Homo sapiens: one gene and its partner. The protein of the gene in region 2 binds, or shares a complex with, the protein of the main gene of each other region. Each region holds a gene or a part of one and is shown on either strand. Other genes may lie near its edges.

What was found. Proteins that work in one complex are often made in the same cells at the same time.
Region 1: the proteins of MTOR (region 2) and DEPTOR are in contact, whole or in part, in a cryo-EM structure (PDB 7PEC), measured with the Homo sapiens proteins. Residues at the interface, in NP_001373429.1 of Homo sapiens: Met304, Gly305, Phe306, His1494, Cys1498, Trp1501, Gln1525, Asp1527, Ser1528, Glu1530, Glu1531, Cys1534, Met1535, Ile1536, Arg1538, Arg1547, Gln1554, Leu1556, Leu1559, Gln1562, Cys1563, Lys1566, Arg1683, Leu1685, Asp1686, His1687, Lys1710, Ile1711, Phe1714, Gln1715; in NP_073620.2 of Homo sapiens: Arg54, His56, Leu57, Lys58, Thr59, Tyr60, Pro61, Val101, Arg116, Lys119, Asp121, Gly122, Thr123, Phe124, Lys131, Ala132, Arg135, Arg138, Lys142, Glu177, Gly178, Glu179, Glu185, Cys304, Asn305, Lys307, Gly335, Asp336, Ala337, Val338.

What each region holds. Positions count from the first base shown.
Region 1 is NC_000008.11:119,869,691-119,876,735, reverse strand, and holds the start of DEPTOR (DEP domain-containing mTOR-interacting protein), read right to left. Parts: upstream 3,015-7,045; 5' UTR 2,890-3,014; coding exon 2,768-2,889; intron 1-2,767. UniProt on the Homo sapiens protein: Negative regulator of the mTORC1 and mTORC2 complexes: inhibits the protein kinase activity of MTOR, thereby inactivating both complexes. DEPTOR inhibits mTORC1 and mTORC2 to induce autophagy.
Region 2 is NC_000001.11:11,231,535-11,238,559, forward strand, and holds part of MTOR (serine/threonine-protein kinase mTOR), read right to left. Parts: coding exon 6,868-7,025; intron 6,515-6,867; coding exon 6,309-6,514; intron 6,226-6,308; exon of another isoform or gene 6,202-6,225; intron 2,732-6,201; coding exon 2,609-2,731; intron 1,954-2,608; coding exon 1,864-1,953; intron 1,780-1,863; exon of another isoform or gene 1,376-1,779; intron 995-1,375; coding exon 902-994; intron 1-901. UniProt on the Homo sapiens protein: Serine/threonine protein kinase which is a central regulator of cellular metabolism, growth and survival in response to hormones, growth factors, nutrients, energy and stress signals.

The DNA.
Region 1 (7,045 bases), on a different chromosome or scaffold from region 2:
ATCAGAAACTACCCTAAGCGCAACTCATCTAATCCTCATAGTAACACTATGAGGTAAATTCCATTATTACCCATCCTTCTTCTTCTTTTTTTTTTTTTGAGATGGAGGCTCACTCTGTTGCCCAGGCTGGAGTGCAGTGGCACTGTCTTGGCTCACTGCAACCTCTGCCTCCCAGGTTCAAGCAATCCTCTCACCTCAGCCTCCCAAGTAGCTAGGATTACAAGCATGCACCACCACACCCGGCTAATTCTTGTATTTTTAGTAGAGATGAGGTTTCACCATGTTGGTCAGGCTGGTCTTGAACTCCAGACCTCAAGGGATCCGCCTGCCTTGGTCTCCCAAAGGGCCAGGATTACGGGCATAATCACTTGTCCAAGGTCCCACACTAGTAAGTAGCAAAGCCAAGATTCAGTCTAGCTTAAAGTCTTCCTTGAAACAACTTAATGCTGACACTTGCCTACATAATGGTGGAGCAGTCATTCAAACCCAGGTCTAATTCCTGCATGACAAGGATGGCTCTCAAAACTGCTGCAGTGCAGAGAGGCGCTAGAAAAGTGGGGAATAACAAGTGCTCTGGGGACTGCAAGGAAGAGGCATTTAAACTGCATCTTGAAGGAAAAAGTACTTGCTGGACAAAAAGAGCCATCATGCAATTTAATATTTGTAAAATAAATGAAAAATAAGTAACCCTATCCAACAGAAGACTTTTAAAAAGATGGCCCAGTAATGAAGAGCAGAGAAATTAAACTTTCTTTCCCACAGTAGGCTTTAAAGGGACTGAAGCCTGTTATCACTCGCCTGCTACAGCTTGGGCTTCTAAAGCCTACAAACTCTCCTTACAATTCCCCCATTTTACCTGTCCCAAAACTGGACAAGTCTTACAGGTTAGTTCAGGTTCTGCACCTTATCAACCAAATTGTTTTGCCTATCCACCCTGTGGTGCCAAACCTGTACACTCTTTTGTCCTCAATACCTTCCTCCACAACTCACTATTCCATTCTTGATCTTAAAGATGCCTTTTTCACTATTCCCCTGCACCCCTCGTCCCAGCCTCTCTTTGCTTTTACCTGGACTGACCCTGACACCCATCAGTCCCAGCAGCTTACCTGGGCTGTACTGCCGCAAGTCTTCAGGAACAGCCCTCATTACTTCAGCCAAGCCCTTTCTCATGATTTACTTTCTTTCTACCCCTCTGCTTCTCACCTTATTCAATATATTGATGACCTTCTACTTTGTAGCCTCTCCTTTGAATCTTCTCAGCAAGACACCCTCCTGCTCCTTCAACATTTATTCTCCAAGGGATATCAGGTCTCTTCTTCCTTACTCTACTCTTTACAACAGGGCTTTATGAAGTCACCCCCGCCTTCTTGGACTGCACCTCACAAACTTACACCACTATCCATCATCTACCCAACTCCTATAAAACAACCCCTTCCCCATCTCCCTTTGCTGACTCCGTTTTTAGACTCAGTCCACCTGCACCCAGGTGATTAAAAAGCTTTATTGCTCACACAAAACTTGTTCGGTGGTCTCTTCACACGGGCACCGCGTGACAGGTTTCATTAGAAAGTACTTTTGATGAAGGAAAAAAAGTTTTTATTCCCTTTAATTCTGACCACGTATTTTTAAAAATCAACAAAGAATCGATAGGTGCAATTTGCCTTTTGTAACATTAAAAATCAGTTAATTCTGACTTCCAATATTGGTCTCCTTCAGAGACCTTTGCAAGACACTCTTTCAGGTCCTGAAACACAGACATTTAGAAACCAAAACAAGCTGGGGAATTCAGGCTAAGAACTAGAAGTAACAGGGGCCCGCGTACAAGTTGTGGCTCAAACGCTGCAGAGCTGGGTTTTCTTTTTCCTGGCAAACTGATTTATAACCACACGAAGGGCAGCTGCAGAACCAGTTAGACCATAAGTACTATTCCCAAACAGCCCTAGAGGAAGGACCATACAGGGATGGGAATGGCAAGGGGGATTCTGGGGGTCGTCCTTGTTCCCAAGTTCCGTGAGACGCCGCAAGTCTTAATTCTTGCAGGAGCCAGGGTCCCCATGGATCCTGCTGCCCAAAACGTGCGAGCCCGGGGAGTTGGCACAGCCTCAAGGCAGCCCGACAAGGTGCCTCCACGCCCCCTTGCGGACCCAAATGATTGAGGACGATGTGCCAATTAACTGATAGGTGCAGGGTTTCAGAAATGCTCTCTCAGTTTAACCTCACAAAAAGCCCTTGAATCAGCCCTGTTTTACAGATGTAAAACACCGAGGCTCAGGGGAGTGAAGGAAGACTTGTCAGCAAAAAGGAAAACCTAGTGAAGACTATCGTTGGTCTTGCTCCTTTTATCAAGGAGTAGAGGGGCTGGGGTCGCCTCGGGACCCCACAGCGACCCCTCTTGCTCTCTTCGCGGATGAGGCGCAGGCTGTCAGCCGGGAGGCCTGGCGGCGTCCAGGTACACGGGAAGACGGACAGCGCGGTGGGTGGCAGGGACTTTGCCCGGCACAGGACTGCAGCAGCCAGGCTAGGGCGCAGCGCGCACCACCCGCTCGTCGGCTTCTGCCAGGCAGCCCCGCTTGGCGAGCGAGTCCTCAGGGACCGAGGCTGCAGCAGCTAAGCGCGGGCGCACCGAGGACCATCCACGCGCCCGCAGCCGTTCCGGCGCCCCACGCGAGTCGCAAGCCACGAGCCAGGGAGCGCGTGCGCGCAGGACTGCAGCGGGCACGCGTTGGCAGTGCCATCGTGAGCTCACCCGCTGTGTCTCTTGCCTTACCGTAGCTGTTCCCCGGTGACCAAGACCTCAGCCATGCGCTCCAGCTCCCTTTGCTGCGCCCCGCCACTCCCGCTGGTGCTGCTGTCACTGCCAGCACTGCCAGTGCTGCCGCCCTCCTCCATGGTTTTAGGGCCGTGCGGCTACCACTGGCTCCGCTGTCCGCCGAGGGTTTGGGTGCTCGGATCAGTCTGCCCTCACAGACGCTTCCCGCGCCATCTTTGTTCGGGGCAGCTCCGCTGCTCTGACTGGATTGGCTGGAGAGGGAATCCCTATGGGTAGGCAGACGCGCTGGGCTAGTCCGGCCCCAGAAACTTGAGCTTGGGGGCGTGGCTAGAGCCCCTCATGGTCGGGGGGCGGGGCCGATGGAGGAAAATATAAACATCTGGGCGGGGCGCTGCTACTGAGCTGTGTGTGCTGCTGGAGGCTGAATTTGGTGAGCTCTCTTTACCCACAAAGCTCATGCTGTAGAATCCTGGGGACAGGCCTGGAGGTTATTAGTGTGAAGGCGTTTTTATTGTACGTTCCACACCCCAAGTTGCCAGAGAGCAAAACATAATTCAACAATCTGGCCAAATGGTCAACAGTGAAGGTTATACATGTCATTGAAGGGCATGGAGAAATTAAACATTCTTCTCTCCCCAACCTCTCTCTCCAAAGACGACTTGTTTGCCTTATGTTGTAATCAATAAGGAACGCCGGCCTAGGAATCAGGCTGACCTGGGATCCAGCTCCGCTCCTGTGATGTCCTATTTAAATGTGTTTAATCCTCCCTTACAAAATAAAAATAATTGCGGCTACCACTTTTGACATCTGCTGCATTAAAGATACTTCAGGTATGGTATTACCTCGTTTAATTATTACAATAATTCATAAAATAGGTATTGGTGTTCGTTTTGCATTAGAATGCAGGCTTGGAGAGGTGAAGTTACTTGTCTAAGGCAAGCAAATAATAAGTATAAGAAGAGCCGGGCACCGTGGCTCATGCCTGTAATCCCAGCACTTTGGGAGGCCGAGGCGGGCAGATCACCTGAGGTCAGGAGTTCCAGACCAGCCTGACCAACATGAAGAAACCCCGTCTCTACTAAAAATACAAAATTAGCCGGGCGTGGTGGTGCATGCCTGTAATCCTAGCTACTTCGGAGGCTGAGGCAGGAGAATCGCTCGAACCCGGGAGGCGGAGGTTGCTGTAAGCCGAGTTCGGGTGAGCGGAGTTAGTGCCATTGCATTCCAGCCTGGGCAACAAGAGCGAGACTCCGTCTCAAATCATCATAATAATAATAAGAAGAAATCTAACCGAGGCAATTCTGGCTTCAAAGTTATGCTTTGAAAAGACTGAAAGACTGCCTCTTAAAATGGGGATACAATGGTATTGTCTATCCGTAAAAGATTATGAAAAGAAATTTGATTAGTACCAAATAAATGTTCTGATTTTCTGTTTCATGCAGAGTCGGAGTTGGTCTGCAGGAAGGCGAAGTAATGTTTATGGCAGTATTCATGTGTGTTGAGCATTTATTCTGTGCTTTACATTGTGCCAAACACTTTATCCTCACAAAACCCTGGAGTTTGGTATTATTTTCAACTTACAAATGAGAAAGCTTAAGTATAGAAAGATGAAGTAATCTGCCTAGAAAGTTAGGTAGCCCTTAAACCCTGGCCATACTCAGCCCCACTCCAGAAAGAGAATAGTTGCCCAACTCCCTTGAACATCCGGGAGCAGACCAGCTCTGAATCTGCATGAGACAGATGTTAGGTGACTCTTTTGCCAAAAGAAATTATTTAAGTTTCTTAATTTTTTAAATAGGCCACAATAGACATGTAGACCAAGGCAGACATAGTTCTAGGTGACTGTGATTCTAAGAGCCTTATTCTGCATAAAATACATAAATCATTCAACAGAAGTCCCAGAGTTAATGAGATTAAAAGGTGTCTGTTGCTCATGTTTTAATCTTATAACTACTAAATAGAATATCAAGAGTTTGCACGGGCTTCTCAGTCAAACATGCAATTTCTATCTCAATTCTGTCGTTTGCTAATTTTGCAACCTTATGCTAGTTATTTCTCTTGGCCTCCCTTTCCTATCGATAAAACAGGAATAATAATTTCTACTTCATAGGGATGTTGCGTGGCTTAAATGAAATAATGTAATCCCAGTTCTTTGGGAAGTTAGGGTGGGAGGACTGCTTGAGGCCAAGAGTTCAATGCCAGCCTGGGCAACATAGCAAGACCCTGTCTCTACAAAAAAAAAACAAAATTAATTACCCAGGTATGGTTGTGCATACCTGTAGTCTCAGCTACTTGAGAGGCTGAGGTGGAAGGATCACTTGAGCCCAGGAATTCAAGGTTACAGTGAGCTATGATTGCACCACCGCACTCCAGTGTGTGTATCAGAGCAAGACCCTGACACTTAAAAAAAAGAAAAAATAAATAACATTAAAATTTCTATTATGTAAAGTTTCCAAGATCCATGTCAGTAACACAAATTTGTAACTTTAAGATAAAAAAGCACCTTAACATAAAGAAAAGAAAAGAAAATTCGAGTTAGGAAAATACCTGATGCTATTGTTCCAGTGACAGTGAGAGAGCATGATTTATTTTTCTTGCCTGATAAGAGGTGTGTGTAGGGGGCGGTGTGTGTATAGGTAGGTATATTTGAACAGGAAATGGGAACTGGTTTGCTGTTATTGTTTTAACCTTTTGACATATGACACACACCATGCTCCACTGGGTAAGAAGACAGATCCTTTTTCCTAACTTAGGGAAAAATTGGTGAGCCACATCCTGAGGACATGTCCATGACTGTGAGCCCAGGAGCAACTGGTTCCAGATAAACTGTAATTTTTTAGATATTGATCAAGGAGAAAAGGGCACTCATATGGCAACTAATTCAGCATAAATATTTCAGAAAAACAGAATTCTGACAAACCTTGGTTTGATTCTTGGCCATGTTTGGGCAAGCTCCTTATCGTCTCTGAATTTGCTGTCCCTCTTTTGTAAAATTTAGATAATAACACCAATCTCATTGGGTTATTGGGAGGATTAAATAAAATTTACTGAAAGCACTTATTACAGGTGGGAACTATTAAGTGTGAGCTTTCTCTTCTAGCTCTCCACACTTTTCTCTTCTAGCTCTCCACACTTACCTCTTTCATGCCTTCTGTCTGTTTTGGTGCTTTGGGGCCAGTGCTTCTCAAAGGTTTGGCGGGGAAGATCCACCTGTGTGTGTGTGTGTATGCTTTCAACCCATTGAAGCCTGATACTTTGATGAAATACAATAATACAAATGAAGCCAGGTGCAGTGGCTCACGTCTATCATCCCAGAACTTTTGGAGGGTGAGGTGGGTGGATCACTTGAGGCCAGGAGTTGAAGACCAGCCTGGCCAACATGGCGAAACCCTGTCTCTACTAAAAATACAAAAATTAGCCGGGTGTGTTGGCAGGTGCCTGTAATCCCAGCTACTTGGGAGGCTGAGGTGGGAGAATTGCTTGAACCTGGGAGGCGGAGGCTGCAGTGAGCCAAGATCGTGCCCAGTTAGCAAACCACACTTGGAGTAGCACTGGTGTGATAAACACTTCCTAAAGGTCAGCAGCAATATAAAAAGGAGATGAACTTGAATTGATAAAATGCATGAAAGAATACTGTCAGCTATGAAGATTAATATGTTAGCTGTCATGATTATTGTTGCCTTTTAATATGCATTGGTATTATTCTTGCCTGATTTTAATTAATTAATTAATTAATTATTTTTTGAGACAGAGTCTCCTCTATCAGCCAGGCTGGAGTGCAGTGGCATGATCTTGGCTCACTGCAGCTTCTGCCTCCCGGGTTCCAGCAATTCTCCTGCCTCAGCCTTCTGGGTGGCTGGGATTACAGGCATGTGCCACCAGGCCTGGCTAATTTTTTTGTATTTTTAGTAGAGACAGGGATCTCACCATGTTGGTCAGGCTGGTCTTGAACTCCTGACCTCAGGTGACCTTCCCACCAGCCTCCCAAAGTGCTAGGATTATAGGCATGAGCCACTGTGCCGGGCCATCCTGCCTGATTTTAAAGGCTAACTGAAATGCCACCTTCTCTGGGCTATTTTCCTGCACTTCTCCAAGCAGTTTATTGCTATTTATCGCCCAAGGGGTTCACCTTGCCCACTGCCTAGAAAGAGCCGATTCATCAAGACAGGGGAATTGCAATAGAGAAAGAGTAATTCACGCAGAGTCGGCTGTGCTGGAGACCAGAGGTTTTTTGTTGTTGCTGTTTGTTTGTTTGTTTTTAATTATACTTTAAGT
Region 2 (7,025 bases):
TAAGAAGAAAAGAGGTTTCCAGTAAAGACACTAACCATGAGCAGAAATCCCAAAAGGGCATAAAACCAAGGTTGATCAAGCACACAACCCTGCAACAATCACTGGATCAAGAGACAAAGAAAATTCCCACCTTTCTCAAAGAAAACACATCATTCTTCCATATCCCAAATGATTAACAGGAGATTCAAAAGGAAATTAAGATTTTTTGTTGTTGTTGAGACAGGGTCTCACTGGAGACTGGAATGCAGTGGTGTGATAACAGTTCACTGCAGCCTTAATCTCCTGGAATCGAGTGATCTTCCCATCTTAGCCTCCAAGTAGCTGGGACTACAGGCACATGCCACCATGCCCAGCTATTTTTTTTTTTTAGTAGAGACAAAGTCTCATCATGCCCAGGTTGCTCTCGCTCTGGAGCTCAAGCAATCTTCCTGCCTCAGCCTCCCAAAGTGCTAGGATTACAAGTGTGAGCTGCCATGCCCAGAAATAAATTAAGACTGTTCTTAATTTTAGTCTAGTCATCTAATAGCCTCAAATTGGGAAAGCAGAACCAGGGCTGGGCAAGGATGAGCTAAACTTCTGTTCCTTCATAGGCAGTGGCCAAGGCTTTCTTTTTCCCTCTGAGAGCTACGGCTCTGACAATTGACCTGCATTTTCTTTTGTATAGACAAAATGGCACTAGTCAGCCCCGATAATTACTGAAACTGACTCTGGGTCAGGACAACAGGTAATTCTGGTTTCAAATCTTTCTAACTTTTACTCATTCAACAAATATTTTTGAGCACCTACTATGTGTCACACTCTGTTCTAGGCACTGGGTGAGGACACTAAGGTGAATAAAGAGAAGCAAAGTCCCTGGACTCATGGGGTCTGTCTTGCTCAATCAGGAAGCAGTAATACTCACCTGCCTTTTGGCCAACAAAGAGGAATCCTGGAGCATGTCCATGATGATAATAAAAAGTTCATCAACCCATTTCCTCATTTCCAGGCCACTAACCTGCAAAATGAAAAAGAGGGTGGCAGAAAGGGTTAGAAATTCTGGCATTAGAAAGTATTTTGGAGGCCGGGCACGGTGGCTCATGCCTGTAATCCCAGCACTTTGGGAGGCTGAGGAGGGCAGATCACCTGGCATCAGGAGCTCCAGACCAGCCTAGCCAACATGGTAAAACCCCATCTCTACTAAAAATACAAGAATTAGCCAGGTGTGGTGGCACACACCTGTAATCCCGGCTACTTGGGAGGGTGAGGCACGAGAATCACTTGAACCCAGGAGATGGAGGTTGCAGTGAGCCAAGATCACACCACTGCACTCCAGCCTGGACAAAGTGAAACTGTCTCAAAAACAAATAAATAAAATAAAAAATTTTTTTTAAAAAAGCCCTCTCTTCCTTTCTCCACCATCATGGTGTGTGCCTGACTCTGATTCTTGCCATTCTTCTCACAAGACTTTCAGAATTAAGCAATTCCTGGCCAAGAAACAAAAGTAAAATCGTCCCATTCCCCAGTGGATTCGGATGAAAACTGGTAATAAAACCAGGTACAACTCCAAAAAAAGACACTGGAGAAGAACCAAGCAGGGTCTATAAGGAATTGCACATGAGATGGCACACACATTTATGCTGTCTGAAGGTCACAATGATATTACCATATCAAGCTGAAAATGTCACCACTATCTGGAGAGTTGGACATGTTTTATTGAGAATATATTATTTCTCTCTGAATCTGTTATGAATGCATTGTTGGCTGGGTTCCGCAATAAATATGTGAGACCTTTCATTTAAAAAAAAAAATAGTATTTTGACTTCCTTAGAGGTTAGTTTCTTTTCCACCCTATCTCCGCTATGGAAAAAGTAGCTGCCCCTTTACCTGTGCCAATTCTCCTATTGTTGCCAGGACATTATTGATCACACCTGGGTTTGGATCAGGGTCTGGATCTTTCAGTTTCAAAATTAATGCCTAGAGAAAGAAGTTATGAGAAAATGAATGCAGATTAGACTCTACTAGAAACCTTTCTTTTATATAAGTAAAATTCACCCAAGAGACCATCTCAGTCATAAAGAAATTCCTTCTAGGCTTTATGAATCCAAGATTTCTCTGGAATGTAAATTCTCAAACTTTTCTCCATATGAAGTCTAAGTCTGACATGTGAGAGAGCTGGGAAGCACCATAATGTGAAAGTATTTCTCATGTCTCCTCTAAACCGAGTCTCAGTGATTGTTCATCCAGATTAACATACATTATAAAGGACTTCACGTGACTCTAATGTGTTGAGATTTGAAGGTTGTTTCAGATTTTCAAGCTCATTTTTTCCTCATTTTGGGCGAGCTATTTTATGCTACTATCTACCTACTTCTCCTTTCCAAACATCTGCGATGATGTGCCTGAAGCATTAACTCTTACCTCTTGTAAGGACAGCACTTTCCTGCAACTGATAAGATTCTTGGTATTCTTTAACTGAAAGTGCTTGATATGGCCCTTTGGTCTCCAAGCGTGAGAGCAAAGAAATCACCTACTTTGTTCAGTGTACTAGTGAACACTGAAACACTCCCATCTCCCCATATGAGCTGATGACAACGCACAGAGAAAGCACCAGCCTCTCGGTTTGTGTTACCTTCAGAATAGGCTCCATGTAGGGGCGGATGAGTCGGGGGGCATTGGAGACCAGGTGCCCCAGCATGCGGGCACTCTGCTCTTTGATTCTTCCAATCCCACTGTGCTCCAACTCTGTCAAAATCTGTAGGGAAGAAAGGCTCATATGTTCTCTATGGCAGAAGACATTCTAGAGAGAGACTGTGTCCAACAGAAAAAGTGGCAGGGAACTGGGGGAAAAACCCAGACCTCCACGACAGATGAAGTAGCTGCTAGATACTCAATGAGCAACAGACTTTTCTGCAACAGGCAGAACAGCCTTAGATACAGCTGTGACAGGAAGAAAAACTATTCGAAAACCTGCTCCCTTTCCTTTTATCACAGCACTCCAATGTCCCATGGCCCTCTCTAAAGCAGAGCTTTTAACCATGTAGCACAGCCAGAGAAGACTGAGAAAACCAACAGGGAGAGCTGTGAGTAGGGTTCTATAAAAATGAGGAAAGAAGGTAGGGCCCCTTGGGAGAAAAATCTTTGTCCAGACAGCAAATTACTGAAGACTACAAATAATGGCAAAGGAATCAAAGAACAGTTAGAACAGCTATGATGCCAAGAGAAGTGCTGATACTCTGTAGCTGTTTGGGGCATATCTAGATAAACCTCAATAGGTGGGGATCACACTGGCAGGATCCCCCGAAGCCTTACTGACTGGAGATAACACATTGGTTCTAGCTGACATCCTTAGGACACCAGCAAATCAGCATATCTTGCTCATGGTGACATAGACAGCATAATATAGACAGATTTCTGGATAAAGCTGCCAGAAGGAAATCGATGAGCAGTGACAAAAGCAGATGTCACAGAGCTCAGGTTAACTCAGCTACCCAGAGGAGTCTACAATTTAACATTACATTTTGTCTTAGGTTACTGACTTAATAACCCGATTTTTCTGGATTCCCCTGGCAGCCTGTTTTCCCCAGTCATAGCAGACCACAGGGAAAAGAAATGAAGGGGATACTGAGAATAGACCTGCAGCACCAAGAAGACATGGCTGACTGCAAGGAAATGTGCCTCACGGAGCAGAGCCCAACTATCTGCAGCAGTGCGGGGCCAATCCAAAGAACCCCAGGTTCACTTAGAGCCCGAGAGCCTCACTGCATCCTAATAACAATAACCAATGCCCACCCTGATGACCAAGACCGCAAGAAAGGCCAAAGTCGGCCAGGCACGGTGGCTCATGCCTGTAATCCCAGCACTTTAGGAGGCTGAGGCAGGTGGACTGCTCGAGCCCAAGAGGCAGAGGTTGCAGTGAGACGAGATCCCACCATTGCACTCTAACCTTGGTGACAGAGTGAGATTCTGTCTCAAAACAAAACAAAACACCAAAGCCTTTACCAAGGCATGAAAATGTACACCTCAATTTGGAAAAATCTATATCAAAGTTTAAAAACAAAAAAGAGTAATTTTAACATTTCAAGGGCTAAATTCAGTACATAAATTCATTCAAAGGAGCTTCACACTCTGCAATATTGAAAAAATGAAATGGCCTGATAGCTTAATATCAGCTTTAAGAAGATTAGAGCCAGCCGGGCGAGGTGGCTCACACCTGTAATCCCAGCACTTTGGGAGGCCGAAGCGGGCAGACCATGAGGTCAAGAGATTGAGACCAGCCTGGCCAACATGGAGAAACTCCATCTCTACTAAAAATACAAAAATTAGCTGGGCGTGGTGGCGGGCGCCTGTAGTCCCAGCTACTCAGGAGGCCAAGGCAGGAGAATCGCTTGAACCTGGGAGGTGGAGGTTGCAGTGAGCCAAGATCACACTACTGCACTCCAGCCTGGCGACAGAGCGAGACTGTGTCTCAAAAAAAAAAAAGAAAGAAGATTGCAGCCACGCCTGGCTTGTTGACTGCTATATTCCCAGTGCCCAGCAGTACCTGGAACATAGCATGTGGTCAAAAAGTCTGCTGACAGAATGAACATATTGATATTCTCATTAGGAGGTATTTCTTATTTTTTCCTTTTTTTTTTTTTTTTTGAGATAGGGTCTCACTCTGTCACCCAGGCTGGAGTGCAGTGGCACAATCACGGCTCACTGCATCCACAACTTACCAGGCTCAAGTGATCCTCCCACCTCAGCCTCCTGAGTAGCTAGGACTACAGGTATGCACCACTACACCCAGCTAACTTTCGTATATTTTGTAGAGACGTGGTTTGTCATGTTCCCCAGGCTGGTCTTGTCAAACTCTTGGGCTCCTGTGATCCGCCTGCCTTGGCCTCCCAATGTGCTGGGATAACAGACATGAGACACTGCACTCAGCCGTTTAGGAGATATTTCTACGCCAAATTAATTTAGCATGATTTGAGCTGGCAGGCTCAACAGTGATTTCACGTTTTTTTTTTTTTTTTTGAGACAGAGTCTCGCTCTGTCGCCAGGCTGGAGTGCAGTGGCGCGCTCTCGGCTCACTGCAACCTTCACCTCCTGGGTTCAAGCAATTCTCCCTGCACCAGCCTCCAGAGTAGCTGGTATTACAGACGCCTGCCAACATGCCTGGCTATTTTTTTTTTATTTTTAGTAGAGATGGGGTTTCACCATGTTGGCCAGGCTGGTCTTGAACTCCTGACCCCAGGTGATCTGGCCACCTCGGCCTCCCAAAGTGCTGGGATTACAGGCATGAGCCACCACGCCCGGCCTTCAACAATGATTTCTATTCCTTCCTATAACTGAGGAATGTTTTTAAGACTTAAAATGGCAGGCACTTCTAACGCAGGCCGGCAGTTAAATAAATCATTACGCTAAAAATAGAAGTGCCAACATAAGTACAACTTCCTAATTTGTTGACTGATGATATAATTTACAGCCACTTTATAACAAATTGTGAACAAACATTTCTCTAGAGTGAGTTACATATATTAATGATTTTCTATGTTTAAGTTCCTTATATGTTATAAAAAGTGTTTACTTCAAAACAAACCATGAAGGAGGATCAGGAAGCAAACAGTGAGCAATGGGGACAGGAAATGACTGGGTGAGCAACATAGAGACCCACAAGAGGCAGGTGGAAATAACTTCACCAGGCAGGACTGGTGTATTGGCAGGACTCCATGTATTGCTCACCAGGAGGCCACAGATCTTACTCAGTAGGTGAAGACAAAAACTGAGGAGCCATGTCTCCAGAGCAATTCTACCTTACGCTACAGACCAAGCAGCTGAGCTTGGCATTCTCATATTATTTAAGAACGAAAGCCAGGATCACAGACTGGAGCAATGACTATTAGAACAAATAGTGGAAACGGTCTCACACTGGTTATTTTTGTGAAGAACAACGGCCTCCGTGCTTGACCTGGCACCAGCAAGAAAAGCAGGAGAGCTGAAGGATAGGGAGGCGCTGGGAAGTCTGACACCATCTGCAGCAGATCAACCCAGCAAGCAAAGAGGGCCAAGAAATGGGATCACTGGTGACTTGCCAGGAAAAAGAAAGAGCTGCATGAGAGGACTCTGAACCACCTTAGAGTCATATTGACAAAGGGCTCATGAGGTGATGAGCACTGGAACTGCCATTATAAAGCCAGGGAAACATTTGGACCTTTGCAGACAAATGCGGCTTTTACCAGGTACCTCAATCTTTCTCCCCCATCCTTGTCCTCAACTCCGCTTCCTCAAGCAGTTCTCACAGCGAGAGTCCTGTCTTCCCTGCCTGTGGGTCTGGCCATCACCTCGGTTACCTGGATGAGCATCTTGCGCAGGAAAGGCATGACAAAGGCAGGGTTCATGCTACTGAGTCGGCCCACAGTGCAGATGGCCAGCTCCCGGATCTCAAACACCTGGTCATTCAGAGCCACAAACAAGGCCTGCAAGTTCTCCGCCTGGGCCAGGTGTGCATCAAAGCGCTCGTCCAGGGACGCCAAGACACAGTAGCGAATGTCAGGGTCTGCAAGAGCAATGGAGCCTTTGAACATTTCCTCATGATCCCATCACTCCAGCCCTTCCCAGCTTCTACCTCCACTGCCATCAGCGTAGTGGGAAGATTCCAGATGCTTTTTCTCATCTAACCTCTGTCATTCTTTTCTCTACTCACAAGAGTAAAAGACAAAAGAATTAAAGGTAGATTATCTTACACCAAAGGCTACAGTAGCCATGCCTAACACGCCTTGGCAGAGAAATAGCTGAATATCAGCTTTTTGAGCCGAAGAACTCTAGAGAGGCCATGTAATGAAACTGGCTACTCCCAATTGTCCTAAGCTCCTTAACTCCCCTAGATTCCTTCTGTCTGGCAAGCCTTACCAGGATCTGTTATCCCAACTACGAGCAGTTTGCTAAGCACATCTGCCACCACTTGCACTGCGGTCTGGCTAACCACATGAGCATGGCCACTGATGAGGTGGATGGAGGGTGTGAGCAGGCGGGAGCAGGTGCGGGCAGCCTCCATGCGGATCTCCTTG